Homo sapiens: one gene and its partners. The protein of the gene in region 1 purifies or fractionates together with the protein of each later gene. This does not show direct contact. Each region holds a gene or a part of one and is shown in the gene's direction. Other genes may lie near its edges. The genes, in order: KCNMB3, ZMPSTE24, LTN1, SLC12A6, ABCC10, KCNJ12 and MTARC1.

Region 1 (4,882 bases):
AGTAAAATATCAAAGACAACTAAAAATTCCTAAACTAGATCCTCGGGTCCCAAAGAAGTGTTAACCATGGAGTGCCCCACCTTCTGAGGTTGGTGCTTCCTGGCACAGGCTCTTGGAACATTCTGGATTGTCTGACATTCCTTTTACTCGCTTTAGAACCTAAAGATGTTGCTGGGGGAAAAGGGAGCTAGGGAGAGGGAAGGGGAAGGATGTGGGATAAGGCATAAACTATGCTTGTGGGAAAAAAACAACCAGTAATTTCCTTGATGGGGTTTTTGCTTGACTTTAAAATGCAGTAAGCTTTTAGGAAGCTTGATGGAGCCTGTGTTTCTACCATTAGTGCTGCATTTGTTTGGCTTAAGATTTCATTAAGCTTCTTAAAATGGAGATACTTCTGGAACTCAAATGGCTACTGAGCAGGGAATGGCAAATCAGTGACACTGTAGGAAGTGGAGGGATTTTGGCAAACTAGAGAACACACCTTCCACAGGGGCAGCCACTGCTCTGCTGGGCCCGCTGTTCATCTGCAGGGACGTGCATCTTGGGATTATTTCCAAAGTCAGAACTCAGCATTTTTATGAGAAATGTCATGATTTTTAAGGTCTTAACAAGTTATCCCACATTAAAAAAATAATAATAAACCAGGCCGGGTGCAGTGGCTCACGCCTGTAATCCCAACATTTTGGGAGGCTGAGGTGGGTGGATCATGAGGTCAGGCGTTCGAGACCATTATGGCCAACATGGTGAAACACTGTCTCTACTTAAAATACAAAAATTAGCTGGGCATGGTGGCCGGCGCCTGTAATCCCAGCTACTAGGGAGGCTGAGGCAGGAGAATCGCTTGAACCTGGGAGGCGGAGGAGGTTGCAGTGAACTGAGATCGTACCCAGCCTGGGCAACAGTGCGAGGTTCCGTCTCAAAAAAAACCAAAAAACACAAAAACAAAAAACGACAGAGAAGGCCAAACAAAACACATCTGTGGGCTGGATGCCGCCATGCCCACCGGTTTGCGACCTTTGTGTTGGACTCTTCTGTTCACCAGACACCCTGCCCTGCGAGAATGTATCTCATCCTTTGCTGGAGCAGGTTTGCAGGCACAGTGGAGAGAGGAGAGAAGAAATGAAGGGACACTTATGCAGAACCATGAGTGGCCAGAGAGGAGGAGAAGGAGGGTGAGAGGAGCAAAGAAGCCATGACAACTTCATAATTCTGAGTGGACTGGGCAGTGGCCAGAAATTCTGGTGGTGGATATGCTGCCTTTCCAACAGGTGAATATGAAAGAATAAGTCAAACCCTGTTCAGGACGCTGTTAATTCCAAATGTGAACTTTTTGAGTCATTCTTTCCATGTGGAATTCAAAGGAGAATGTAAACAAATTTTCAGGAGGGACGTGCAATATCCCTGAAAGATAACAAAGTTCGTAACACTTATTTACATACAACATTCTCTAGTTATTGATTAAACAGATCTCTACAGACTTGCATGAGGCAACATTTCTTAGGCTTGTTTGCTACAATATCTTTAAAAATACTTGATTACACATCACTTTAGCTTATTTAGATGGACTTTTCACCAAGCTCTGAACTGGGATTTCATTTTGTTGCATTCATCCTGCTCACGAGACACAGGTAGGCAGCAAATGAGATTATCCCTCCAGTCCCCATGGATTGGAAATGTTCCCCCTTCTTTATGAGCTCACTGCAGTATCTCCTTCTCCCTTTCCCCAAAGGACAGCCTTTCCTGCCTCAGGGAAGAAGAGAGAGACAGACTACAGTGATGGAGACCCACTAGATGTGCACAAGAGGCTGCCATCCAGTGCTGGAGAGGACCGAGCCGTGATGCTGGGGTTTGCCATGATGGGCTTCTCAGTCCTAATGTTCTTCTTGCTCGGAACAACCATTCTAAAGCCTTTTATGCTCAGGTAAGAAACAGAGGAAGGAAATCTAGAGTTTCCAATTCAGATAAGATCCAGGCACAGCGGTAAAGGAGGAGAGGCTGGCTTTGGTTTCTCAATCTGTGACTCTCTGCCATGGTCTAGAAAAAGAAAAATACAATTCCTCTTCCGCTGTCAGTGCTGGGGGCAGCTGGGTGTGGAGGAAGAGGTGGCGAGAAGGTCAAAGATATTTCCCTGCACTGCCTCCTCCCATCTCATAATCTATATATACCTCCAAACACGTAATCCACAAATTATAGTTTCTTCATTTAGGTCATAAATCCTCCCCTTAAAATGTTGGTATTCCAAGAGAGAGTTAAACCTTGTATGTGAGCACAATAAAAGTTTTTTGAGTCTGAATTTTTTGAGTTTGACAGTGTCTACCTGGCACATAGTAGTTGCTCAATACATATTAGTTTCCTTCCTTTTAATTAGGTTCTTTATTCAATATATGTAGTGATACAGTTGACCTTTGAACAACATGGGTTTGAACTTCGGGAATCCACTTATAAATGGATTTTCTTCTGTGCCTGCCACCCCTGAGACAGTAAGATCAATCCCTCCTCTTTCTCCTCCTCCTCAGCCTACTCAACATGAAGAGGACAGGGAGAGGACCTTTATGATGATCCACTTCCATTTAGTAAATAGTAAACATGTTTTCTCTTCCTTATGATTTTTTTTCTTCAATTTTTGTTTTAAGTTCCGGGGTACATGTACAGAATGTGCAGGTTTGTTACAAAGGTAAACGTGTGCCATGGTGGTTTGCAGCACAGATCAACCCATCACCTGGGTATTAAGCCCAGCATGCATTAGCTATTCTTCCTGATGCTCTCCCTCCCCCTACTCCACTGAGAGGCCCCAGTGTGTGTTGCTCCCCTCTAGGTGTCCATGTGTTCTCATCATTCAGCTCCCACTTTTAAGTGAGAACATTCAGTGTTTGGTTCTCTGTTTCTGCATTAGTTTGCTGAGGATAATGGCTTCCAGCTTCATTTCATCTATGTCCCCGCAAATGACATGATCTTGTTCTTCCTTATGATTTTCTTTCCTTTTCTTTTTTCTGAGACGGAGTCTTGCTCTGTCGCCAGGCTGGAGTGCAGTGGCACGATCTTGGCTCACTGCAACCTCTGCCTCCCGAATTCAAGCAGTTCTCCTGCCTCAGCCTCCTGAGTAGCTGGGATTACAGGCGCCTGCCACCATGCCCACTAATTTTTGTATTTTTAGTAGAGATGGGGTTTCACCATGTTGGCCAGGCTGGTCTTGAACTCCTGACCTTTGAACTCCTGACCCTGTGATCTGCCCGCCTTGGCCTCCCAAAGTGCTGGGATTACAGGCGTGAGCCACCATGCCTGGCCATGATTTTCTTAATAACATTTTCTTTTCTCTAGCTTATTTATTTATTTTTTTAAGAGAAGGGGTTGGGCCAGGCGCGGTGGCTCACGCCTGTAATCCCAGCACTTTGGGAGGCCGAGATGGGTGGATCACGAGGTCAGGAGATCGAGACCATCCTGGCTAACATGCTGAAACCCCGTCTCTACTAAAAATACAAAAAAATTAGCTGGGCACGGTGGCGGGCACCTGTAGTCCCAGCTACTCAGGAGGCTGAGGCAGGAGAATGGTGTGAACCCAGGAGGTGGAGCTTGCAGTGAGCCGAGATTGCGCCATTGCACTCCAGCCTGGGTGACTGAGCGAGACTCTGTCTCAAAAAAAAAAAAAAAAAAAAAAAGAGACGGGGTCTTGCTCTGTGACACTGGAGTGCAGTGGTGTGATCACAGCTCATTGCAGTCTTGAACTCCTGGGCTCAAGCAGTCCTCCCACCTCAGCTTCCTGAGTCAGTGGGATTACAGGCATAAGCTACTGTGCCTGGCTATTCTAGCTTATTTTATTGTAAGAATTCAGTATATAATACATATAAACATACAAAATATGTCTTAATCAACTGTTTATTGGTAAGGCTTCCAGTCAACAGTAGGCTATTAGTAGTTAAGTTTTTTTTTTTTTTTTTTGAAGCAGGGTGTCACTCTGTCACCCAGGCTGAAGTGCAGTGGTTCAATCATGGCTCACTGCAGCTTCGACCTCCTGGGCTCAGGCGATCCTCCTGCCTCAGCCTCCCAAGTAGCTGGGACCACAGGTGTGTGCCACCATACTTGGCTAATTTTTAAATTGTTGGTAGAGATGGGATCCCCCTATGTTGCCCAGGCTGGTCGTGAACTCCTAAGCTCAAGTCATCCTTCTACCTTGGTCTCCCAAAGTGCTGGGATTACAGGCATGAGCCACCATGCCTGACCAGTAGTTAAATTTTTGAGGAGTCAAAAGTTATATGCAAATTTTCGACTGCAGGTTTGGGGGTGTGGTGTTGGCATCCCTAACCCCTGAATTGTTCAAGGGTCAACTTTAGTTGCTACTTATTAAGTATATGCTGTATGCTCAATACATACTATATTTTATCCTACTTAAACCTACAGCAGCCCATGATGGAAGTGTTATTTTAGTTTTCATTTTATAAATGAGAAAGCTGAGGCTCAGAAAGGCCAAGTAACTTGCCCAAGTTCACATAGCCGGTAAATAATATGCCTGTCATTCTGACGTAAGACTTGCTTCTTAATACCTAAATGATGTTTGCTGAAATGAGGGGAATGGGGGTTCTGATTAGGGAAGGGGAGGGGCTATTTAATTTTGTAGGATGGCCCACACAACATGTGGTACTCTGGGGCCAGGTCAGTTCAGGGTAAAAGGAAGGCAAGGGGTGCTTTTTGGACATTGCTTTATTTTTGGACAGCCCTTTTTTTTTTGGACAGCCAAAGAGCAACAGGAGGCCCAGGGGGAGTGGAAGAGGAAGGCCTAGGAGTTCAGTGAGGGAAAGGGGTCATAAAAAAGGAAGAGAGTGGCCTACTTCTGTTATTTATGATTCATCTCCTGCCATTCCTAGGTTACCATTGTTAGGGGAAAGAT
Region 2 (4,135 bases), on another chromosome or scaffold:
AGTTATCAGGTGACTTTCTTCCATGTGGTAAGCCAAGAATCCAGGCTCTTTATCTTAGGGATTTGTCTGTATGATTTAAGGTACCTTTCATATAGTGCCTGTGTAATAAAAAAGGAATTGTTTTGTTTCTCATTTACTTCTCTCAAAAGTAAACTTTTTTGAAGGCAGGGATGATATTTCAGACCTTATGTTATCCATAGAATCAAGCATATTGCTTGGGATGTAGTAAGTAAGTGCTCAGCAAATACTTGTTGATTTGTTTGCCAGTAGTTCATAAAAACTGGATTTTTGTTTTTTCTTTTGTTTAGATCACTCAGTCCCTGGTGTTTCTGCTGTTGGCTACACTTTTCAGTGCATTGACTGGTTTGCCATGGAGTCTTTATAATACTTTTGTGATAGAAGAAAAACATGGCTTCAATCAACAGGTATAATAAAGAATACAAATGTTCTCTTTTAAATGTGAAAAACTTCTGTGCTTTTGTCCTGTACTGTTTATAATTTAAACATAATTTACTATTTCAGAGTATGAATTGAGAAAAAAGGGAACTACAGATATGGTAAAGATCATAGCTGAAAGTCTTGGGGGCCGCGGTGGCTCTGGCCAGTTGCCCTGGCACTCGGGGAGGCAAGGCTACATGTTCGAGGCCAACCTGGTCAACACTGATTTTAAAAAAAAAATACTTAAGGCCAGGCCCAGTGGCTCATGCCTGTAATCCCAGCACTTTGGGAGGCTGAGGCGGGTGGATCCCAAGGTCAGGAGATCGAGGCCATCCTGGCTAACACCGTGAAACCCGTCTCTACTGAAAATACAAAAAATTAGCCGGGCTTGGTGGTGGGCGCCTGTAGTCCCAGCTACTCGAGAGGCTGAGGCAGGAGAATGGCGTGAACCCGGGAGGCAGAGCTTGCAGTGAGCTGAGATCTCGCCACTGCACTCCAGCCTGGGTGACAGCAAGACTCCGTCTCAAAAAAAAAAAAAAAAAAAAAAAAGAAAGAAAAAAAGTCTTGACTGGGTACAGTGGCTCACGCCTGTAATCCCAACACTTTGGGAGGCTAAGGCGGGAGGATCACTTGAGTTCAGGAGTTCAAGACCAGCTTGGATAGTATAGTGAGACTTCATCTCTACAAAAAAATTCTAAAAGCCAGTTGTGGTGGCATGCACCTGAAGTCCCAGCTACTTGGGAGGCTAAAGCAGGAGGATTGCTTGAGCCCAGGAGGTTGAGGCTACGGTGAGCCATCATTGTGCCACTGTACTCCAACCTGGGCAACAGAGCCAGACCTGTCTCTTAAAAAAAAAAAAGAAATTTATGTTATAAACTCCTTTAGCACTAATATCTATTGTTTTTCAGCTACTAATCATTTGTTTGTTTGCGACAGGGTCTCGTTCTGTCACCTAGGCTGGAGTGCAGTGGCAGGATCATGGCTCACTGTAGCCACGACCTTCCAGATTCAAGCAATCCTCCCACCTCAGCCTGCCTAGTATCTGGGACTATAGATGAATTATACTACACTGGGTTAATTTTTTTATTATTATTTTTAGTAGTGACAGGGTCTCACTATGTTGCCCAGGCTGGCCTGGAACTACTGGGCTCAAGCAATCCTCCCATCTAGGCCTTCCAAAGTGCTGGAATTACAGTTGTGAGCCACTGCACTCGTCCTCAGTTAATAAGGTTTAAATGAATTTTCAGCTGTAAAATGCAAGACATTTACCCATTGTCTTAAGCTGCCTAATGTCATATAATATAGTTTCACTGCATGTTAATTTTAAAAATTGCTTTAATAATGTATCCTTTGTATTTATTTATCAGTTATTTTAAAAAGCAGAACCAGTTTCTCAGTTTCTTGTGGTAATGTTTTCTTTTTGCAGACTTTGGGGTTCTTCATGAAAGATGCAATCAAGAAATTTGTTGTGACTCAGTGTATTTTGTTGCCTGTGTCTTCACTTCTACTTTACATTATTAAAATTGGGGGTGACTATTTTTTTATTTATGCCTGGCTGTTCACATTAGTTGTGTCTCTGGTGAGTAAAATCTTTATTTCGTTTTCTTTTGCAAAAGTTCCTTGGTGAGATTACTGTAATCTTCATTGGCATGTAAACAGTTCTTAAGAAGCAGCTGAAATATAAATAGGTGCTTATATACATTTCCCCCTTGGTTTCTGCTTTTGATTGTAGACACAGGAGTATTGACTGACCATAAATTTCCTTCTCCTTATGCTAACTCTTCAGGTCATAGAAACTAGTTGTTAGTCACTTTTAATGATTCAGTTGTCAGGCAGTTTTGGGTTGTGCATTTGCGAGTTGCCACCAGAATGACTAAGTGTGATAATTTAATGACTCCTGACTGACCTCCACTGCCTAAAATCATGGTTATTTTGAAGAGAAATGAGATTTAAGAGGGACAAGAGAAAGAAAGCATATACTTAACTGGCTTTCTTCTGCTTCCCTTCCCTTGCCTTTCCCTTCCACGTTAGACACTCTCTCCCTTCTTTGCCCCATCTGCTTCCCCTTCCCCTTCTATCTTTTACCCATTCTTCTTCCTTTCCTTCTCCTGTCTTCCCTTTTCTCCCCAACTGCCACCTATTCCTGCCTCTCTTCTCCTTTCCTTTTCCCTCTCACTCTTTTCCCCCTGATTTTTCCCTCCCTCACATCTCCTATTCCTCTTCTCTTTCCATACTCTCAAGTGCTTCACAACACAAACACTACAACGCAGTCAAAATGGTCTGTTCAGGGCCAGGCACAGTGGCTTATGCCTGTAATCCTGGCACTTTGGGAAGCCAAGGTGGGAGGATTGCTTAAGCCCAAGAGTTTAAGACCAGCCTGGGTAACACAGTGAGACTCTGTCTCTACAAATAATAATTTTTAAAAAACCCAAATGAAAAAACCCAAAGTGGTCTGTTCAGTGCACCCAGAAATTATCATCTATCAGCTCTTCAGCTCCACTGATGAGGTTTATTTTATTTTAGAGATAGGGCCTCCCTGTGTTGCCCAGGCTGGAGTACAGTGGCTATTTCACAGGCATGATCATAGTGCACTACAGCTTTGAGCTCCTGGGCTCAAGCAGTCCTCCTGCCTTGGCCTCCTGAGTAGCTGGGACTACAGGTGTGTGACACCATGCCCAAGCTGAGGTTTATTTTAGTCTGAATTACATAATGCTCATTGTTTCATTTTCCATTGATGGGATCAAGATCAGAAAATGGGCGCTAGTTGGATTTACAGGTATCTATTGTATGGCAAATTAAAGTAAGATGAAAAAGAGCAGAGAAAATGCTCTAAAAATGCTTAAGGAAGTGCTATTTCAACCACATTGTACAATTATGAACTACAGGTAATTAATTTTAGCTGATAAGCCAACCAAGTAACAGCACACAATCAAGTTCTACTAATTCTTTTTTGGGAAAGACTTCAGGTCTATTGTGATTACGCTAAAAGGTAGAACTGCGTGTTATGATTGACTCATGAAGCATCAGAAATCCCCAAGATAGTTTTGAAAGGACTATACTTATTACCACCTAGAGATTTTAATCACTGTTAGTAGCATTATCCTTTAAAATAAAATTCATAAGTTTACTCTGTTATCAGACTACTCATTTCAATTTAATTCATCAGACAGATATTATGCTCTTACTATCTGGTACTATTTGGGCCTGGGAATACCAGAGCAAGTAAGTTCCTTGTTCTCAAGTTTGAGGTCAACATAGTTGTTTTAATATAATTTAATCTGTATAATAAAGAATGTTTTTTCTTTAAGAACATGTTCATATGTTATTCTGACATTTACTTTTCAGGTTCTTGTCACAATCTATGCTGATTATATTGCCCCTTTATTTGACAAATTCACACCTCTGCCTGAGGGAAAGCTTAAAGAAGAAATTGAAGTAATGGCAAAGAGTATTGACTTTCCTTTGACGAAGGTGTATGTTGTGGAAGGTAAGGCTACCTGGGGATAAGAAAGTTTTATCCAAGTGGTTTGTTTTATTTGATACTTTATTCTTAAAATTTTAATAAAAGAATTAATCAGTTTTTGTTTTTTTCTTTTTAAAATTTGTTATTTAAAGGCTAGGAGTTTACCTTTTGGCTTTTTAAGATTTACAGAAATTGATAACATAGGCCAGGGATAGAAACTGGTGGCTTGATACC
Region 3 (3,752 bases), on another chromosome or scaffold:
GGCTGAGGGGATTAAGTGAGATTTTATGGAAGAAAATCACTTGGAGGTGGGCAGGATTTTGTTATGGGGAAAATGAAGGGAATGGCATTTACTATAAAGAAAATAGGCCGAGTGTGGTGGCTCACGCCTGTAATCCCAACACTTTGGGAGGCCGAGGCGGGCAGACCACCTGAGCTCGGGAGCTCAAGACCAGCCTGGCCAACATGGAGAAACCCCATCTCTACTAAAAATACAAAATTAGCCAGGTGTGGTGGCACGTGCCTGTAATCCCAGCTACTCGGGAGGCTGAGGTAGGAGAATTTTTTGAACCCGGGAGGCGGAGGTTGTGGTGAGCCGAGATCACGCCATTGCACTCCAGCCTGGGCAACAAGAGTGAAACTCCATCTCAAAAAAAAAAAAAAAAGAGAGAGAGAGAGAGAATAGTATTGCAAAAGCAAAAAGCATAGAAGTGAGAATGTCATTTCAGTCGTTGCCCAGGAAATGATAAATAATGCAGTACTCCAACCCAAATAATGCGTAGGAGTCCCAAGGGTGAATAGAATCAACGGTGAATAAGAGGTATGTTGGGAAGGGCCTCAAATAACGGTCTAAAGTGGTACAATTCAGCCACTGAACATTTTTCATTCAGGCAGTAGCATGATCAGAGTTAAAATCTTTGAAATTGCTCTGACCACAATCTATAGCATGATCTGTTGGCAAACAGTTTGGATTCAAATGAATGGTAGAGGAGACTATTGGGGTAGACATGAGCAAAGGACTAGGGCATGGGTGAGGCAGTAACAGTGGGAATATAAAAGTAGGGATGTGAGAGATTTTGTGCTAGTGATTTAGTTAATATCTAGGATGAGGTAGAAGCAGAAATTTAAAATGAGCTATCATGATTTTTTAGCCTGGAAGTAGGAAATTCAGAAGATGAAGTTTGTAAAGGATAATAATGTGTGCGTTTTATGTTGAGTTTGCAATGTTGGTTTGAAAACCAAACAAATAACTATAAATGTTCTGACAGTTGATAGTTGGCTCCAAAGCTCAGGAGGATAATATGGTAGAGGAAGAATTGTTAGATGTAGAAGTGACATTCGATACTCTGGGTGTGGAAGAGAAGCATAATAACCCATTCTGTCACTTATCTATTCAAGGTTTATTGAACTATTATGTGACAAGCCTAATATAATAAAACCTTTTTTATGAGCAATTAATTTCTTTTAAAACAAACTTTGAATATCACAAAATCACTGTAAAAATATACCAGGCAGGTATTTAAACGTATTTCTTAATTATCTCATGTCAGATAAGTGAATGTATTTACCTGCACTGTCCTTGAATGAAGTCTTTAGCTTTTAATAGTCAACCTATCAAAATGTTTTCTGGTTGAAAGACAGAAATTTGGCAAACAAAATATCCTTTGTTGTATTGCAGGTTAAAGCTCGAGCTACTACTCGAGAGGTAATGGCTACTTATACTATTGAGGACATAGTTATTGAACTTATAATACAACTGCCTTCAAATTATCCACTGGGTTCAATAATAGTAGAAAGTGGGAAAAGAGTAGGAGTAGCTGTTCAGCAGTGGCGGAACTGGATGCTGCAGTTAAGCACTTACCTCACCCATCAGGTAAGTTTCTGTTTACACATTTGGCTTTACAAACTTGGAAAAGATGATCTATTTAAAAGGGCATTTAAACATAAAATATATCTTTTCTGCTTAAGATAAAAGTAGATATTAAACTTCCTTGGATAAATACAGAGATATGCCTAAATGGATTAAACCTGCCTTTCTGTTTTAATTGTTAAGGTTCTGTAATTTATTTTCTGGTGTTTGAGAGGGATTGACTTTATTTCATTAACACTGTAGAAGGTGTATTAACAAAATTGTTTCGGAGAGGATGTTTTGAAAGATACTGGACAGATGAATGCCTTCTGAGCTACTTTCACTTTTATTCTTACATTTCAACTCCTCTTTGGTTAGAGAAGTCCCAGGACCCTCAAAGACCTTTGACCTCTAAACACATTTTAAATCTTCAGTTCTGTGTGCACATTGTGTATCTCAGGCATTCTACAATAAAGAAAAACTTTTTTTTTTTAAGAGTTTTTGCTCTTGTTGCCCAGGCTGAAGTGCAATGGCATGATCTCAGCTCACTGCAACCTCTGCCTCCCAGTTCAAGCGATTCTGCTGCCTCAGCTTCCAGAGTAGCTGGGATTACAGGCACCCGCCACCACACCTGGCTAATTGTTTGTATTTTTAGTAGAGATGGGGTTTCACTATGTTGGCCATGGTGGTCAACGAACTCCTGACCTCAAGTGATCTACCCACCTTAGCCTCCCAAAGTGCTGGGATTACAGGCTTGAGCTACCGCTCCCGGCCAAGAAAAACTATTTTAAAACAAATATGCTCACCAATATTGTAGAGCTGGAACAAATCATTTGAGATAATTTCATCATTTTCAGTTAAACATTAGAACTAACCTAAATGATTTAATTATTAAGAGAGTTTTATCAAGCAACAAGCTTAGACTATAACACTTTAAGTATTGGTCCAGAAGCCTTTAAAGTATGTCTTTAATGGAGAAAAATTACATCTGGTTCCAAAAACTTGGGAGGTTATTTTAAAAACCAACATTCATAAGTTGGGAGACATGAACATAGCCAAGCAGATTCTCTTCTTTCAGAATTGTAATTCAACTTTAAAATTTGTGAAATTGAATAAAAATAAAATTGGTGGTTATCAGTGTGTAGTGACTTATTTTTCTTCTTGTTAACAGAATGGAAGTATTATGGAAGGCTTAGCTTTATGGAAAAATAACGTAGACAAACGTTTTGAGGGTGTTGAAGATTGCATGATCTGTTTCTCAGTCATTCACGGTTTCAACTATTCCCTTCCCAAAAAAGCCTGTAGAACATGCAAGAAAAAATTCCATTCAGCCTGCTTGGTAAGTCTAAAGAGAAATTAACTTACTTATATTTTATGTATTTTATACACATAAACACACACACACACACACACACACACACACACACCTACACAATGTCTAACTTCGGAAGAGAAAATGTGTGTTAAACTTAATTGTAGCTAATGGGAGATATATTAAAAAGTGATTTTTTAAAATCTGCCAAAGATAATTAGCAGTTTACTGAGACTGGTAGAATCAAGGCCCTCTAATAAATGGGTGTTTCCAGTGACCTTTTACCACTCAAGAAGTAGAAGGTCTTCTGAGATCTAGACCATGAAGGAGAGTACAGGAGTTGGTACTGGAAGCCATCTGGCATCAGAGCCCTGTGCTCTTTTTAAACATACTGAAAAAGAAGTTGCCATTTGTTCATTTGTTTCACAGGAGATTTCTTATATCTTAGTGATTGTGTGCATGAGCCTAAGTAGGAAGAACTTAGTGTAGCCATCGGAAGTAATACTCAATTTGTGTTAATTTTGGAGATAACAGAAAGAGCAAAAATTTTATTGTTCTTCCCTTTTCACTTTATCATTTGAAGGTTACTATAGATGTATGTGTACTTTATGATGTATGTTAGAGGAGAACTTTAAAAGTTCTTTTAGTATTTAAAACCTTTTCTTTTTCAGTACAAATGGTTTACATCTAGCAACAAATCCACTTGTCCACTGTGTCGTGAGACGTTTTTCTGAGATTTTTTTCACTGGAAGGGATCCCTGAAGTACATCAAACAAAGGCATTGGATTTGGATCCGTCTGAAAGTGTGGATGTGGGGAAGCCAGTGAGCATTACTTTTAAATAGGACCTTCTC
Region 4 (4,135 bases), on another chromosome or scaffold:
AAATGGGTACCTTCATGGGTGTCTACCTCCCATGTCTACAAAATATTTTTGGAGTGATCCTTTTTTTACGCCTTACATGGGTGGTGGGCACAGCTGGAGTTCTTCAGGCTTTTGCAATTGTCCTTATCTGCTGCTGCTGTGTAAGTACTGCACTGGCTCCTAGAGATCACCTGAACGTTGCAAGTTCTCAAGAGCAGATGCACATGACCTCTTTGGGAATAAAACAAAGAATACTTAGGGAAGGACTCATGATCTCAACAGAAGAAATTATTCTGATATTAAAATCTAAAGGATTTTCAGTTATTCAGTGCCTGTTAGTCACTGCTTGCTATCTATTATATGATGTACTAGAAATTACAAAGCAAGACTTCAACTGAAAATGGAAGATAAAGTTCCTGTCTTCAGAGAATTCAGAATCCAAACTATTTGAGCTTGATAGCACCAAAGTTGTGACAGAAAATGTGTTAGAAAATGTGATGTATCACTCCAGTATATATTGAGAAACAAGACAGGTTATTGCGGATGTGAGGGGTATTTGGTTTTTTTATTTGGTTTTGAAGTTTCTTCCCTTATCCCTTCCTTAGAAATTTAGATGTTCTTTCCAGGTCTTCTCTCTACTGAGAACATTTTTATCTTCCTTTAATTTAAACTTCTCATTATGTATCCCAGACACACCTATGAATTTTATAGTTTTCTACTGTCCTTTTTTATCACTATGACCTTTATACCCTACCTGTATATTATCCCCAGCTGATGAGCAAAACAGGTTAAGCAGGCACAGTTCATATTTTTAATAACTTAAAATGTTCATGGTACCACCTTTTTTTAGTCTCAGGCTTAAAACCTCAAGGCTGTGTTTGGCTTCTTAATTGCTTTTCACATCTAATCAGCTACCAACGCTAATCTATTCTCTGAAATCTTTTACACTCAGCCCTTTTTATTCACACTACCACCACTATAGTTTTTACCTCTCACTGAACTACTATGGTAGCCTGCTAACCAATCACTCGGCCTCCAGCTACTCCTATCTGCAGCGCATTCTATACTGTGCTACCGGGTAATATTTTTAAAATGCGGTTCCTGTGTGCTCAGAAGCCTTCAGTGATTCCCTTTCTTACTGAACATTGTTCTTGATATTGTATTTAGTCTTTAGTCAGGTTCTAACCTATTTTCTGAGTTATTTCTCTAGTTCTTCCTTTTGAGTATACTATGCTCTATTTCCTGTGTAACTAGGAAATCCAGAGTGAGATTAGCAGTTCTTAATAGCACCTGACCTACTGATGTGGGAGCATTTTGACAGAATCCTCCAGATATTAGTGGTATGACTAGCGCAATGAATTGGACCATATCATCTTATTTCCATACCATTAGGTATGACTGTCCATAAAAGTAGGTAGAGTTAAATGTTTGCCAAGTGCTCTTGGAACACAAATGGAGAAGTAGTATAGAAATGTCATCTTTACACAGTAACAATCCTCTCCTTTCCTTTTCTCTGCAGACAATGTTGACTGCTATCTCCATGAGTGCCATTGCCACTAATGGAGTGGTGCCAGGTTAGTAGGTCAAGGTTGTATTTCAGGATTTATCAGTGTTGACTCTGTGTTTATGCTATAAAGCTAGAGGTGCAAACTTCTGAAGAATAGAATACTATTTGGTCTGTTCTGTGCTACAACAGAGTAATGGTCTATAGGACGTAGACATAATACTACTTGACTTTAAGATGCCGTCTTTAAAATCTCTTTATTTTTTAAACTAGAATGCATTAATTTCAGTCACATTCTTAGCTTTTATTAGTTGGAATATATATTTTTTTATAGACAGAGTCTCACTCTGTCACCCAGGCTGGAGTGCAGTGACACGATCATAGCTCACACAGCCTCCAACTCCTAGGCTCAAGCTGCTTTCCCACTTCAGCCTCCTGAGTAGCTGGAACTAGAGGTGTACACCACTATGCCTGGCTATTTTTTTTTTTTTACAGAGGTGACATTTTACTATGTTACCCAGTTTGGTCTCAAACTCCTGGCCTCAAGCAATCCTCTCGCCTCATCCTCCCAAAGTGCTACCATTAGAGGCGTGAACCTCCACACCCAGCCAGAATATATTTTATTGGGCTGTCTCATGTCATAGTAAATATTCTCTAATTTTTTTCTAAGTAAATGCTGGCAAACTATTGCTTCATATGGCTCATTACATTAGTTGTGCAGTATATCCCACAATAACACTTTCACCTTTTACTTCCCACTAGCACATCTTTTTATCACATTGAGGGTTTGCAGAAGCCTGAAACATTTAACCTTTATGTATATATTTTTTCTTATTTCTGTTTTATTCATATTCCTCTTGCTAATACACACTCTTTCTTCTATTCACCTTCTGTTTTGTCTTTTAGCTGGGGGCTCATACTTTATGATTTCCCGGGCACTGGGCCCAGAGTTTGGTGGGGCTGTTGGCCTCTGCTTTTATCTTGGTACCACATTTGCAGCAGCCATGTACATCCTTGGTGCCATTGAAATCTTTCTGGTAAGTAATGACTTCATTGTGGTCTATAATATAGAAGAAATATTGATTTAGGTTTATTCTTTGCTATGAAAGCTTCTGAGAGATCAGCTGTGGGAATAAATCAGGTGATTGACTGCCAACGTCAGTTGGCCTCTTACATGAATATGAGGTGGAAAGGTTGAAATTCTGTTTGCCTGCCTGTCCCTTCCTTTCTACCTGATTGCCACCACTCTGCCACCTCATCCAAGAGGTTCAAGTCCAATGGGGAAAAAGTAAAATAAAGTTTATCTTTTTTGATATCTTCATCCCTATGAAATAAAATGCTTCTCATATCTCTCTTCACTGAGACATATTGTTTACTATTTAAAGTAGTGATAGTAGAGTCAGGGTTAAAGATCATCATTATAATTACTTTATATAACCCTATGAATAAAATTAATAATTTGTTCCTTTCCTTTCTTTCCATTTGGAAATGTAGTTATTCAGAACAGCATGTAGACCAAAAAAAAAAAAAAAATCCATGACATCCCATTTCTGAAGGCATTTCAGATCCTATTAGAAACTAGGCTAATTCCCCAGTCATTTTCTCTCTCAGCTTTGCTTTCTTTTGTGAAAGTAAATGCAAACGAATACAGCCTTTTTACTTAATTATTTTGAAATAACCTAATTTTCTCCTTTATTTTTACCTAACAGGTCTATATCGTCCCCCGAGCTGCCATCTTTCACAGTGATGACGCACTCAAGGAATCAGCAGCCATGCTAAATAACATGCGTGTCTACGGCACAGCTTTCTTGGTCCTTATGGTATTAGTGGTATTTATCGGCGTACGCTATGTGAACAAGTTTGCCTCACTTTTCCTGGCCTGTGTCATTGTGTCCATCTTGGCCATCTATGCTGGAGCCATCAAGTCTTCTTTTGCTCCTCCACACTTCCCGTACGTGTCTGTCTCTCTGCCTAGCCATCCTTATTGGGTAGTAATTGAAAATATCTGGTGGTGTGATAATTTTAAGTCAGAATTTCATAGAGTCTCTCTGAGATTTTCCCTCTCAGATAAGCCCAGTTAGACTTCCTTCCTCATCTAGGCAGGAAGCCTACCAGCAAACTATGTCCCGTTCATCCTCTTTCTTATGTCCTAAGCATAGAACTAGTAGCTGTAACCATCATTTAGGTTCAGATATTAGATTTTTTTCTCCCTGATAATTGTACATAATCTTTTTTTATTATACACATTTTGAACTATTCATAAAGGGCTTTGCAGACAGTGTAGTTATTGCCAGCAACCTTTATAAGGCCCACCTTGGCCTCCCGACGTGCTGGGATTACAGGCGTGAGCCACTGCGCCCAGCCTAGGTCAGGGCTTTTATCCATTACCCAAATAATGTACTTTGTACCCATTAAGTACTCTCTCATCATTCACCACCTCCTTCAACTCCCTAGTGCGAATACTTTAAAGTATGTTTTTTGAAGTAGTAATGGATTTGTGCACATCTGTGACTCACAGGCTCACTTTTCCCTTTGACTAGTGGCATAGGGACTAGCTGGCACTCAGTGTTATTTGTAGTCTTGTTACAGAATTATCTTGAAGAGTCATCTGGATTATCTGAGGATCAAACTCATCGGTTCTATGTTGATTTA
Region 5 (4,135 bases), on another chromosome or scaffold:
CTGTATTTGCCTGGTTCTCTTCTCTCTGTGGACACACCCTCCACTGAGCAGAAGATGTGACTACAGAGAATGCTCGAGTTTACAAGTTACAGCCAACAAGGAGAAGCTGCCTCTGGGACCTGATCCCAAATTCCCATGGAAAGGTCTCAGAAGTGGTGCCCACTTGTAGCTGGGTCAACCCTGGCTGGCAGGGTTGGGGCATCACAGGCAGATAGAGCTTCTGAGAGCCCAGTCCCTTCTAGAGAAGGAACTAGGACTTTTTTTTTTTTATATTTTTTTGAGCAGGGAGATAGCTCCATGAACATATGACCAAAAAAAAAAAAAAAAAAAAAAAAGGTAAACAGAAAAATTTAAGCCACAGAAATAGGGATCTATGCAAAGCTCTGCTTTTTCCCCTGAGATATGGTAACTCTAGCCACAGGTCGACTTAGCCAACCCATCATCCAGGCCCTAAAGCCTGGAATTCTACCCTTCCCTCTCCCGTTCTGGAGTGCCTGTCTCAGAGTTTACCTTGGAAGTTCTTGGGTGGTTTCCTCCCATTCTCTCTGGCATGCTGCTCCCCTTCAGAGGCCCTTCACATAGACAGTGAAACTGATAGCCACTCTGAGTGGAGAAAAAAACACCCTACTTTTCTAGAGCCTGATTTGTTGATCAGCCTGTGAAGCGGAGAATTCTTTCCCTACACACTAAAGAAAGAAGAAAAGAGAAGCCTCAGTGGGAGGACTGGCAGCCCAGAGTGTCAAGAGGGAGACCACTGCCACCTCTGTCCTGTCTCCTACCAATAGCAGATGCTTGTGTGGCTTCCTTGCAGGGTATGCTGGTGGGCATCGTGGGGAAGGTCGGCTGTGGGAAGAGCTCCCTGCTGGCTGCCATCGCTGGAGAGCTCCACAGGTAACCAACCTCCTATGCACCCCTGTCCTTACTTTGTCCTTTAGCAAACACTGAGCCCCTCTTATGTGTTGGACACCTTTTGGGGGTCAGGGGTACTAAGAAGAGCAACGCATGGTCCCTTTATTGGGAGAGTTTTCAATCTGGAAAGAAGGAGGTGGCCAAGAAAGCGAATCATTGTAATCATTACACCAGAGTGTTTTAAATGCTATAATAGTCAGCAAAGGAATGGAAACATCCAGTGTCAGCTATTCTTTCAGAAATGTGGCTGTGCAGAGAAGGGATCCAGAGAGGAGCATAGGTTTGAGGGAGGACCTTGTTTTCAGATGGGAACAAGTACAATGTGGTGGCCATACTCTCCACTGAGCTCCTGAACAGATGTAAGTACAACAGCTGCTTGGCTGTAGCCAAAGAGCTATTTCTTCCCTTCTTCGCCCAGAATGGGCTTCATTAGGACCCCTTGACCTCAGGAGCTGCCATCTCAGTCATGTGACATGAAGGGGGACCCTGTGTAGAAGACAGCAGCCTGGGGAGGCTTCTAGGAGTCAAGGGCTGGGCATGGAGGGACCCAGAGGAGAGCTGGTCCTCATATTGCTCGCCTGGCTCTCTGCAGGCTGCGTGGGCATGTGGCAGTGCGGGGGCTGTCCAAGGGCTTTGGCCTGGCCACCCAGGAACCCTGGATCCAGTTTGCCACCATCCGAGACAACATCCTCTTTGGGAAGACATTTGATGCACAGCTGTACAAGGAGGTGCTAGAAGCCTGCGCCCTCAATGATGACCTCAGTGTGAGTGCCTGGCCTTGAAACCTCTTAGCTGCCTGTTTCTCCAGTGTCCCTGACACCTCAAACCAGGAGCTTTGCTTTTCTGGAAAGGGGTTGCTTCTACTCGGGCATCACTTATCTAGGAATGGCCATCGGACTGTGGTCCTCCCAGAGTGTCCAGCTGCCCCTTCTGATAGGGCCCAGTAGGGTGGTGACTGTGTGTTCTGCACAGTTGTGGGAAGAGCCCTAAGGCCTCTGGAGCTAGGGAGGGTTCCACCTGTGGGGCTTAGCTCTGCACAGCCTGGCTCCTTGTCCCCTTCTCCATACCCACTTCCCACTGGGAAGGCTTGGAAGAGTCAAAGTTTCATTTGGTTGCAGGTTACCCTAGGGAAACCTGCCAAGCTATTAGATTTCCCCTTGCCCCCAGTCCAGAGTACTATATTTATAGGAGAAGAGATTCCAGATTTCTCCCTTGACTTCCCACCCAACCCTGCTGTCCCCTTCAGAAATGTCACCACCACTACCCTACCCAGGTAAATGTGGAATGTCCCTGAAAAGGAGCACTTTTAACCTTGACCATGGGGCATTCTGTATCCAGCTGTCATTCTTTTTATTACTTTTTTAAAATTGATTAATTTTTTTTTTTTTGAGACAGGGTCTTTTTTCTGTCCCCCAGGCTGGAATGCAGTGGCGCCATCTTGGCTCACTGCAGCCTCTGCCTCCCGGGCTCAAATGATCCTCCCACCTCAGCCCCTCAAGTGGCTGGGACTACAGGAGTGAGCCACCACACCCAGCTAATTTTCGTTTTGTTTTGTTTTGTTTTGTGTTTTTGAGACGGAGTCTCACTGTGTTGCCAGGCTGGAGTGCAGTGGCACAATCTCGGCTCACTGCAACCTCCGCCTCCTGGATTCAAGCGATTCTCCTGCCTCAGCCTCTCGAGTAGCTGGGACTACAGCTGCGTGCCACCATGCCCAGCTAATTTTTGTATTTCTAGTAGAAACAGGGTTTCACCATGTTGGCCAGAATGGTCTCCATCTCCTGACCTTGTGATCTGCCCACCTTGGCCTCCCAAGGTGCTGGGATTACAGGCGTGAGCCACCGCGCCTGGCCTACTACCCTGTCTTTTTAACAGTCAAGGTAGTAAGATATCTTGGGCAGATTTTATGTAAAAGCTTTTATAGGTTTTTACTTTTTCGTGTGTGTGAGACAGAGTCTTGCTCTGTCGCTCAGGCTGGAGTGCAGTGGAATGATCTCGGCTTACTGCAACCTTTGCCGCTCGGGTTCAAGTAATTCTCTTGCCTCAGCCTCCTGAGTAGCTGGGACTACAGGTGTAAGCTGCCACGCCTGCCTAATTTTTGTATTTTTAGTAGAGATGGGGTTTCACCATGTTGCCCAGGCTGGTCTCGAACTGTTGGGCTCAAGTGATCCGCCCGCCTTGGCCTCCCAAAGTGCTGGGATTACAGGCGTGAGCCACTGTGCCCGGCCCAGCTTTCGTAGGTTTTTAGAGAAGGAATGTACTACCTCTAAGGCTTCTTGTGGCCTCAGGAATGGGCTACTAAGCAAAGGGATTCCCTTCCTCACGCAGAGGAAGCACCCGTGATCCACTAGATGGTGAGTCCCCTGAGCTAAAAGCTTTGTTGTTCATCTCTTTCCTTAGTGCCTACAACAGTACCTAGGACCTAGCAGACTTGGGAAAGCAATGAATGATTGGCCAGGCGTGGTGGCTCATGCCTGTAATCCTAGCATTTTGGGAGGCCAAGGAGGGTGGATCGCTTGAGGTCAGGAGTTCAAGACCACCCAGGGCAGCCAGGCTTAACAGTGGTGGCTCACGCCTGTAATCCCAGCACTTTGGAAGTCCAAGGTGGGCAGATCATGAGGTCAGGAGTTCGAGACCAGCCTGGCCAACATGGTGAAACCCCATCTCTACTAAAAATACAAAAAATAGCTGGGCGTGGTCGTGGGCACCTGTAATCCCAGCTACTCGGGAGGCTGAGGCAGGAGAATCTAGCTTGAACCCAGGAGGCGGAGGTTTCAGTGAGCCAAGATCGCGCCATTGTACTCCAGCCTGTGCAACAGAGTGAGACTCCGTCTCAAAAAAAAAAAAATACCAGACCACCCAGGGCAATATGGTAAAATCTCTTCTCTACAAAAAAAAAAAACAAACAAACAAAAAAAACAAAAATTAGCTGGGTGTCATGGCTCACACCTGTAGTCCTAGCTACTCTGGAGGCTGAGGCAGGAGAATTGCATGAACCCGAGAGGCGGAGGTTGCAGTGAGCTGAGATCATGCCACTGCACTCCAGCCTGGGCGACAGAGCAAGACTCTGTCTCACACACACAAAAAAGTAAAAACCTATAAAAGCTTTTACATCAAATCTGCCCAAGATACCTTACTACCTTGCCTGTTAAAAAGACAGGGTAATAGGCCAGGCACGGTGGCTCACGCCTATAATCCCAGCACTTTGGGAGGCCAAGGTGGGTGGATC
Region 6 (4,135 bases), on another chromosome or scaffold:
AGGTTCTGGTCCTGGGCCTCAGCCAGGTGTGCCCGGTTGGCCAGGTGTGCAGCCAGGTGTGCCAGGATGGGAGATTGTCTCCTGGGGCTCACCTGGGGAGTGGGGGCAGAAAAGGAAACCAGGTAACATGAGGACTGGCAGCAGGGATACTTCTCAGCCCTCCCTGCCTCCACCCCAAGGGTGTACAGGAGGGTGCGACGTGACACCTCCACTGTGGGAGCGGGCAGCCTGAGGCCAGAGAGGGTCCCCACAGCCGGAGGTCACACAGTTCCCGGAGGAAGGCTGGGGCGCAGCCTTGAGGCCACAGACCCTCTGTCCCTGATGCTTCCAGGCAGCTTTTGGGGACTTGGCAGGGGAGGGGCCGGGGAGAAGGGAGCATGTGGAGACTGAGATGTGTATGATAGAGAGGATGAAAGGCCGGGGGCAGGAGAGGTCAAGGGGGATGGAGTGGCCTGGTGGCCGGAGGTGTGCCCTTGCCCCTGCCCGCCCCGCTTGCTCCAGCTGCAGCCGGGCCCGAGCTGGCGGCTCCAGGCCTGCAATTCTCCAGCACTTAAAGCAAAAATAAATCGCTGCCAGCAGCTGGCGTTCTGTGTGGCAGCAGCCGAGCCAACCCCGCCCCGACCCTCTGCCTCGGGGCTCCTGGTTCCGGGCCAAGCCAGGCTTCCATTCAGGGCTGGGGGGCGCCGAGGCCAGAGAGGGTCCAGGGGAGCTTGGCGTGGCCGGAGGGGGCGGGTCCTGGCATGATCACAGGGAGGGCAGAGGCAGATGGAGACCTGGGGCTTCCAGGGGTGCTGGGATCTGGGGCAGGTTGGGGATGCTCAAAAGTGGGGCTTCTGACAGTCTTGGGTCTTGTGGAAATAGGGCCTGGGAGGGGCAAACTCAGGGGTCACAGCCACCTGTTTGGCCCTGGGGATCCCCAATCACAAGCCACCCCCAGCCTGTCCCCTGGATGTCCCTTTCTTTCCATCCCCTCCTTTCCCTTCTCAGAGAATCCTAGAGGTCCTAGAGGTCAGGTATTTGCGTGGTGAGCTTTGAGGATGCAGGATTTTGGCCTCATTCCTGAGCTCAGCAGGTGGCTGGGGATGTGGCCTGCACAAGACCCCTGCCCTGGGGGGCTGACATCTCAGTGGGTGGGGCAGGATGAAATAGACAAAAAACACATGAGCCATCACGGGCATTGTCATATTTTGTTGAATATAACAGTTTTTAATTATAAGAGTGTTATGTGCTCACAGTAAAGTGATAAACAGTTGTAAGGGGAAAAGTGAATTTCTCCTCCTCACCCCCTGCCTCCCCCACCCCCAGAGTTTCTTGTCCTTGGGGTGACCATCATTAGAGAGGCTTCTGGGTTTCTCAGTGCTTATGCAGACGTGAATAAGTAAATGGAGGCATAGAAACGTGCTAATATCTAAGTTGCCTTTTTTTAAATTCGTATGGGACCATTGCATACATGTCATGGCGTCCCCTGCACTATGCGCACTGCTGTGTGGTGCCCGTGCCCACTGGACCCAGGGGGTCTCATCCTGTCGTCCTGGGCATGGATTGAGGGCTGAGTCTTGGGACTGTAGGATCTTTGTGGCATCTGAATGCACAGAGCCACCGAAGTCCGTGAGTCATGGGTTCTTTTCGTTGTCATTTTAGCTGCGTTGAGACAGAGATCCTGGATTGCAGGATTTGGTTTAAGTACCAGGAGAGGTACCGAGTCCTCGCCTGGGTGCCTCCTTCGTCACATCCCTCTGGGAGTTGGGATAATCCAGATCCCCTGCCTCCATCCCCAGAGCTCAGAGGGTCTGGGGGGCTTCAGAGTCGCAGCCTGGGGCTTTGGGACCTCTGGGTGAACCTGGCTCCCACTCAGGGCAGAGTAGACACGCTGGAGCTCGGAGGGGAGGCGCTCATTGCTGCTCCCACTGGGGTCCTTCTTCCTTTAGCCTCTCTTCTTCCCTTAGCCCTGACCTCCTAGAAACAGGATCACTTGTTCCCTCACTGTCTTCAGGCTGGGGCAGGCCTCTGTGTGGGGAATGTCACTTTGTTTTTTTTTTTGTTGTTGTTTGTTTGTTTTTTTTTTTTTTTGTTTTGAGACGGAGTCTCACTCTGTCGCCCAGGCTGGAGTGCAATGGCGCGATCTCAGCTCACTGCAATCTCCGCCTCCCGGGTTCACGCCATTCTCCTGCCTCAGCCTCCCGAGTAGCTGGGACTATAGGCACCCACCACCGCGCCCGGCTAATTTTTTTTTGTATTTTTAGTAGAGACGGGGTTTCACCGTGTTAGCCAGGATGGTCTCGATCTCCTGACCTCGTGATCCGCCCGCCTCAGCCTCCCAAAGTGCTGGGATTACAGGCGTGAGCCACCGTGCCCGACCCAGGAATGTCACTTTGACCTGTCTCCAAGCTTCCGCATCTCAGTGCCTGTCCCATCCTTGTCATTCCTTGGAACCTGGCCTGAGATGCATCAGGGTGGTCCCACCTTACTCCACCAGGGCCCCTTATTAGAAAGGATCTGCTACACTGATTGGGAGAGTGACTAGTCTGTGGTCACTCTCAGTATCTGTCTCAGTGTCTGTGGGGATCAGATATACCTGGTGCCCTTCTTTTATGAGCCTCACTTTCCATGTTTGTGAAATGGGGAGGCAGTCCATTCTCGTGTCTGGGCATCTGTTCTCTCCTTCCCTCTGGGCTTGGGCACTGCAGGCAAGACAGGGCAGCTTCCTGGCCTCCTTGATCCCTATTCTGCTGTGTGGCCGGAGGCTCGGCCCTGCCATCACCCCGGCCTGCTGGGCTGCAAGCTGTCAGCAGCACCTGCCCAGTCAGAGCGGCCAGGTCCCTCCCCAGGCCCTGGGAGCCTTGAAGACCACTGGAGGCAGTGCCCCAGGAGGTAGCCGTGGAGTGGCCCCGGCCCTCCCTGGGGGTTGTGTAACAGAGGAGACCCCGCTGCCCTCCTCTTTTCCTCTGCAGGGTGGAGGCTGGCCTGGGCCCTGCCAGCACAGCCTCCAGGCCACTCATGGGTCCTGGCCTCCATCCCACGGTAGATGCCCTGACTCTGCAGCACCAGGGCTCATGACCAGGCTCTTGGTGGCCTTAGGACCAGCTGCCGCTGGGTGGGGATGCCCCAGATCAAAGGCAGGTAATAGAGAGGAGACTGGGAGGACAGTGGGTGGGGAGCAGGAACCCTGGGAGCCTCAGTGTCCTCCCCTGTGAAATGGGAACACTAGAGAAAGTGGGTTGGGCAAACCCACACGCCTACCATTGCATCTGGGGTGTGGAAGGAGCACTGGGGCAGGAGTCTGGCAGCACCACCAACCAGGTCCAGTAAAGAAAGCCGAGGCAGGGATCAGAGGGCGGCAAGCCAGTGAGACCCTGTGTTGGTTTCCTGCTGCTGCCACCATAACAGACTGGGTGGCCTAAAACAGTACAAATGCAGCATCCGTTCTGGAGGCCAGACGTCTGAAACCGGTGTCTGCAGGGCTGGTTCCTCGCGGAGCCTCTGAGGGAGAAGCCATTCTGGGGCTTTCCCCCAACTTCTGGGGCTTCTGGCGGTCCTGGCATTCCTTGGCTTGTGGGCATCTCCAGTCTCTGCCTCTTGTCTTCACATGGTCTCCTCTCCCTGTGCTGCCTCTCCCTCTCCTCTCTCTCACTCTTTCTGTTATGAGACAGTCTCACTCTGTCAACCATGGCTCACTGCAACCTGGAACTCACAGGCTCAAGTGATCCTCCTGCCTTAATCTCCCAAGTAGCTGGGACTACAGATGTGCACCACTATGCCTGGCAAATTTTTAATTTTATTGTATTTATTTTTTTTAACTATATGTTTTTTTGATATGGAGTCTCGCTCTGTCACCAGGCTGGAGTGCAGTGGCGTGATCTCGGCTCACTGCAACCTCCACCTGCCAGGTTCAAGAGATTCTCCTGCCTCAGTCTCCTGAGTTGCTAGGACTACAGGCATGCGCCACCACGCCCAGCTAATATTTATATTTTTAGTAGAGATGGGGTTTCACCATGCTGGCCAGGATAGTCTCGATCTCTTGACCTTGTGATCCGTCTACCTTGGCCTCCCAAAGTGCTAGGATTACAGGTGTGAATCACCGCGCCAGGACCTCTACTTCTAAGGATGCTTGTCATTGGATTCAGGGCCCACCCTA
Region 7 (4,135 bases), on another chromosome or scaffold:
AACAGCGTTGGGTGTGATTTGCATCAACATTCAAAGAGGGGGCTACAGACCAGCCTAAGGGAATCCCAACATTTTGAGAGATGTTTCTCAATACTCAAAACATTAACAACTTTTCTGTAAAAAGCTAATATTGTGGAGCATTTAAGATTGGTATATTTCATTCCATGTAACTTTCACCTCAAAAAAAAAAGCAAATAATGGTTTTTACTCTAGGTAATAATATTCAAGCTGAACTGTTCAGAGTTGAAATGTACTGGTGTCTGCAACTTACTTGGAAATGCAAAAAGACAATACAGTGGATTGATGGATAGATACATGTGTGATAAAGAAAACATAGTCAAGGGCAGGCACGATGGCTCATGCCTGTAATCCCAGCACTTTGGGAGGCTGAGGCTGGTGGATAACTTGAGGTCAGGAGTTCGAGACCAGCCTGGCCAACATAGTGAAACTCTGTTTCTACTAAAAATACAAAACTTAGCTGGGCATGGTGGTGGTCACTTGTATTTGCAGCTACTCGGGTGGCTGAGGTAGGAGAATCCTTTGAATCCGAGAGGTGGAGGTTGTAGTGAGCTGAGATTGTGCCACTGCACTCCAATTTGGATGACAGAGTGAGACTCTGTCTCACAAAAACAAACAAACAAACAAAAAAACAAATATATATAGTCAAGTGTTAAGCTCAGAATTCAAGCAGCGGGTAAATGGGTGTTTGCTGTAAAATTATTTCACCATTTGCCTGCTTGAGAATTTTCATAGTAAAATTTTGGGGGGAAATGTCACTATATGTGACAGAACATTGATGAGAGGACCAGGGTTATAGCTATTCTTTGAAATGCGCTCACTCACCATCAGAACAAACCAGAATTCAGTCTTCCTGTTTTCCATGGCCACAGAGGAGCTACTAGGGGCAGAAAGCAGGGTGGGCCAGCGGGAAGATCCCGGGCTGGGAGTCAGGAGACCTGGATGTGCAGCACACCGACTGCTGTGCTCCTACCCCTGCCCGCACTCAGACCCTGAGTGTTCTTCCCTATAAAATAAAGGAGGCAGGACAGAAATAGATGATTCTGTGTAAATCAGCCAAGTGGTTTGGGGAATTGGCTGTCATCCTTTTTTGTCCATCTTGTTCTTTCTCTTCCCCCTGTGTGTTGCTCGGTGTGGGGCATCCTTCCCTCTGGATTTAGAAGGTTTATGCTCTTGCAGAAACAGCCTCCGCAAAGCACTTCACGTGTTTGGGCTTGTTCTCTGCATCTTCAGTGCCCCCCTTCCTCCATTGGGAGCCTGTGTTTATAGAAGGAGGATAATTGACCCTAAACACAGAGTGAGGGTGGGAAGGCGGGGGGCGCAAGGAGCCAGCACACCCCCCTGATCTTCCGCAGGCTTTGTGAAGCCCAACAATCTGGCCCTAATTGCTTCTAATACCCCAGGAGACAGTGCGGCCAGCCTAGGTGTCTTCTCCTATCTCTTACTGAGATTTAAATTGCCATGGATGTGTAATTTATGTTCTTCCCAAGACAGGTGGTCATAAATCGGGAAGAGAAAGGCCTGGCCACATCCCATAAATCATGGGAAGGGAAGCAAACAGTGGTGTCCACAGCCTCTCTGCTATTGGGCAGGTTGCTCAGAGCTACACCACTTTCTGCCTCTGGGCACTCATGGTGCCCATGGCTGGGGTTGCTTCTGGAATGCCAGCGCTCAGCTGGGAGACCTCTGTGCCTGACCAGCCCTGCCTCCTGATGTTAGTCACCCACAGGCAGAGCCCGCGGTGGTACAGCAGTGGGAGGAAAAGAAATACAGAGGCATAGGGAAGCCTTTGTCTGTAAAATGCTCACAGCGGGAGGCACAGTGGAGGCATGTCTGCTAACAGGAAGATATGAAAATGGAATTTTTCTTTTCTTTCTTAAGGGAAAGTGACGTACACACTGATCCCCATGGTTGAAGGAATGGCTGGAGTCTGCCGTTGTTGCTTCCATGACATTTTGCCCCTAATGGAAAGAATATAGCACAGTTACTGCATGGGTACTCAAAAAAAAAAACGTTTTGCTGGATGCACGAATACTGTGACAGTAATGACATTTGCCAGCAGCCACTTGTGTCAGGCTGTGCTCTGCTGAGCTAAACACAGAATATATAGCAGTGGTAACTCCATGGGAGGAGGCAGACTCTCCACCCTAGTCTGGCTCTGTCACCTCCTAATTGTGTGACATTGGCAAGTCGCTTAGGCTCTTCAAGTCACAGTTTCTTTATTGGTATAAACTGGACTTGTAATACCTCTTCTGGTAGACTGGAATAAGGCAAGATATAGGATTTTTATAGATGATAAAATACTGTACACAGTGACCATGTAAGCTGCGGTCATTGAGAGTCACTGTTTATAAACTTGACACCTTCTGAGAGGAGGAGAAGCCTGACCACACTTCTTCCCATACTCAGAGGCTGCTTTAAATGAAACCTAACACGAACTTGCCCAGCGGCCAGCCTCTGGAGGTTCAGTGTGGCACCTCTCCCAGGAACGTTCACGATGCCGTCTAATTCTTCAATTTAATTTAATTTAATTTAATTTATTTATTTATTGAGACAGAGTCTTACTCTGTCACCCAGGCTGGAGCACAGTGGAGCAATCTCAGCTCTCTGCAACCTCCGCCTCCTGGGTTCAAGCAATCCTCATGCCTCAGTCTCCCAAGTAGCTGGGATTACAGGCATGCGCCTCTACGCCTGGCTAATTTTTGTATTTTTAGTAGAGACAGGGTTTCACCATGTTGACCAGTCTGGTCTCAAAGTCCTGACCTCAGGTGACGTGTCTGCCTTGGCTTCCCAAAGTATTGGGATTAACAATGCTGTTTAATTCTTAACCTGGCCATAGAGATAGGCAGTCATGAGGCCTCAGGAATGGCTTCTGCCGCTGGTGACTTATGGTCCCATGAACGCCAGTGGTGGGATCGGGCAGTGACCAGATACTCTGCCTGGAGTCATGGCCTGGACGTTGACCAGTGAATGCGTAAACCAGGCAGGGTAAACAAGGATCAGCCCTCTGTGGTGCACAGCACTTTAACGGTAACAAACTGTTTCCATTTACATTGCACCTTGTAAATAATAGAGACCTCGGTTTTAAGCTAAATAAAGTGTCTTGGGCTTCCTGCTCATTAGAATAGTTATGTTTCATGTTCATTTAAGGAGAAAGTGCACTAAGGAAGATTTTAAATGAGTTTTAATTTATTAATACCAACAGGAATACATATATGAAAAGTCACATATTTAAAAAATCGTAGAAGACCCATGTATGAAAGAATACTGTTTCAGAGTGTTGAACTTAGTGTGCGCACGAATTCATAGACTGCTTGCAATACCTCTTAGTGCCACAAGGCGCCGCTAGTGACCTCGTTGAGTCTTCCCACAGCCTGGAGGCGGGCTTCCGCAGCAGTAGCAAGAGGAGGTGGTGCAGGAGGCGGTGAGAGCCCGCAGCAAAACCAGGCAGCTGTAGGAAAGCCCTGGCAGGCCGGCCCACCGAGAACCCCTTTTCCACTCCCATAGCTCTTCCCGCTTCTACTCCTAGACAGCGGAGTGGACCGCCACCTGTGAGCCGGTGACCACACCTGCACTTTCACAAAGCAGCTCCCTCACCCCGACCTGTGCAGTTTAGGGAGGCTGTGCCGAGAGGGGCAGCCGCTCTTTACGGTCCTCTGCTCCTCATTACCTGGTGGGGGAGTGAGTGTGTCTGTGCTTGGTTGGCAGGAAGGGATAGGTGAAAAATGTAAGTGGCTAGAAATTGGTGTAGGTGACTAAATTGTGAGACCCCTCGGTTCTTCTCAGGCCTGTGGGTGTACTCAGGAGGATGTCGACGACCAGGGTTACATCCTGGGTGGGAAGAGTCCACTAGACTCTGAAGTCAGCCAGGCCTGGGCTCTGGCCCCAGCTGGATCCTTTAGATCTGTGATCTCAGGCAAGTCTGTTACTCCCCCTGAGACTTAACTGTAAAATGAAGAAAAGGCAAATTCCCACATAAGCAGGTTGTAAGGATTAAAAAAGAGAACATGTGTAAAGTTCCTTATAAACTATCCATGTGTGATGCGCAGAACTCCAACTCTCAATTTCTCCCCAAGATAATGAGAGTCTGGACTCTTAGACTGCAGAGCTTGGCAGC

The links.
Region 2: the proteins of KCNMB3 (region 1) and ZMPSTE24 purify together in Homo sapiens (affinity purification with mass spectrometry; one large-scale study listed by BioGRID and IntAct). This does not show direct contact.
Region 3: the proteins of KCNMB3 (region 1) and LTN1 purify together in Homo sapiens (affinity purification with mass spectrometry; one large-scale study listed by BioGRID and IntAct). This does not show direct contact.
Region 4: the proteins of KCNMB3 (region 1) and SLC12A6 purify together in Homo sapiens (affinity purification with mass spectrometry; one large-scale study listed by BioGRID and IntAct). This does not show direct contact.
Region 5: the proteins of KCNMB3 (region 1) and ABCC10 purify together in Homo sapiens (affinity purification with mass spectrometry; one large-scale study listed by BioGRID and IntAct). This does not show direct contact.
Region 6: the proteins of KCNMB3 (region 1) and KCNJ12 purify together in Homo sapiens (affinity purification with mass spectrometry; one large-scale study listed by BioGRID and IntAct). This does not show direct contact.
Region 7: the proteins of KCNMB3 (region 1) and MTARC1 purify together in Homo sapiens (affinity purification with mass spectrometry; one large-scale study listed by BioGRID and IntAct). This does not show direct contact.

The regions. Positions count from the first base shown.
Region 1 is NC_000003.12:179,247,782-179,252,663, reverse strand, and holds the start of KCNMB3 (calcium-activated potassium channel subunit beta-3), read left to right. Parts: upstream 1-1,549; 5' UTR 1,550-1,560; coding exon of another isoform or gene 1,561-1,628; 5' UTR 1,629-1,673; coding exon 1,674-1,921; intron 1,922-4,882. UniProt on the Homo sapiens protein: Regulatory subunit of the calcium activated potassium KCNMA1 (maxiK) channel. Modulates the calcium sensitivity and gating kinetics of KCNMA1, thereby contributing to KCNMA1 channel diversity.
Region 2 is NC_000001.11:40,268,111-40,272,245, forward strand, and holds part of ZMPSTE24 (CAAX prenyl protease 1 homolog), read left to right. Parts: intron 1-308; coding exon 309-425; intron 426-1,864; coding exon 1,865-2,017; intron 2,018-3,783; coding exon 3,784-3,925; intron 3,926-4,135. UniProt on the Homo sapiens protein: Transmembrane metalloprotease whose catalytic activity is critical for processing lamin A/LMNA on the inner nuclear membrane and clearing clogged translocons on the endoplasmic reticulum.
Region 3 is NC_000021.9:28,930,329-28,934,080, reverse strand, and holds part of LTN1 (E3 ubiquitin-protein ligase listerin), read left to right. Parts: intron 1-1,416; coding exon 1,417-1,611; intron 1,612-2,758; coding exon 2,759-2,926; intron 2,927-3,570; coding exon 3,571-3,633; 3' UTR 3,634-3,752.
Region 4 is NC_000015.10:34,253,647-34,257,781, reverse strand, and holds part of SLC12A6 (solute carrier family 12 member 6), read left to right. Parts: coding exon 1-140; intron 141-1,498; coding exon 1,499-1,553; intron 1,554-2,389; coding exon 2,390-2,520; intron 2,521-3,192; coding exon 3,193-3,434; intron 3,435-4,135.
Region 5 is NC_000006.12:43,437,123-43,441,257, forward strand, and holds part of ABCC10 (ATP-binding cassette sub-family C member 10), read left to right. Parts: intron 1-811; coding exon 812-891; intron 892-897; exon of another isoform or gene 898-1,266; coding exon of another isoform or gene 1,267-1,268; intron 1,269-1,501; coding exon 1,502-1,673; intron 1,674-4,135. UniProt on the Homo sapiens protein: ATP-dependent transporter of the ATP-binding cassette (ABC) family that actively extrudes physiological compounds, and xenobiotics from cells.
Region 6 is NC_000017.11:21,382,716-21,386,850, forward strand, and holds part of KCNJ12 (ATP-sensitive inward rectifier potassium channel 12), read left to right. Parts: intron 1-4,135. UniProt on the Homo sapiens protein: Inward rectifying potassium channel that probably participates in controlling the resting membrane potential in electrically excitable cells. Probably participates in establishing action potential waveform and excitability of neuronal and muscle tissues.
Region 7 is NC_000001.11:220,806,960-220,811,094, forward strand, and holds part of MTARC1 (mitochondrial amidoxime-reducing component 1 precursor), read left to right. Parts: intron 1-4,135. UniProt on the Homo sapiens protein: Catalyzes the reduction of N-oxygenated molecules, acting as a counterpart of cytochrome P450 and flavin-containing monooxygenases in metabolic cycles.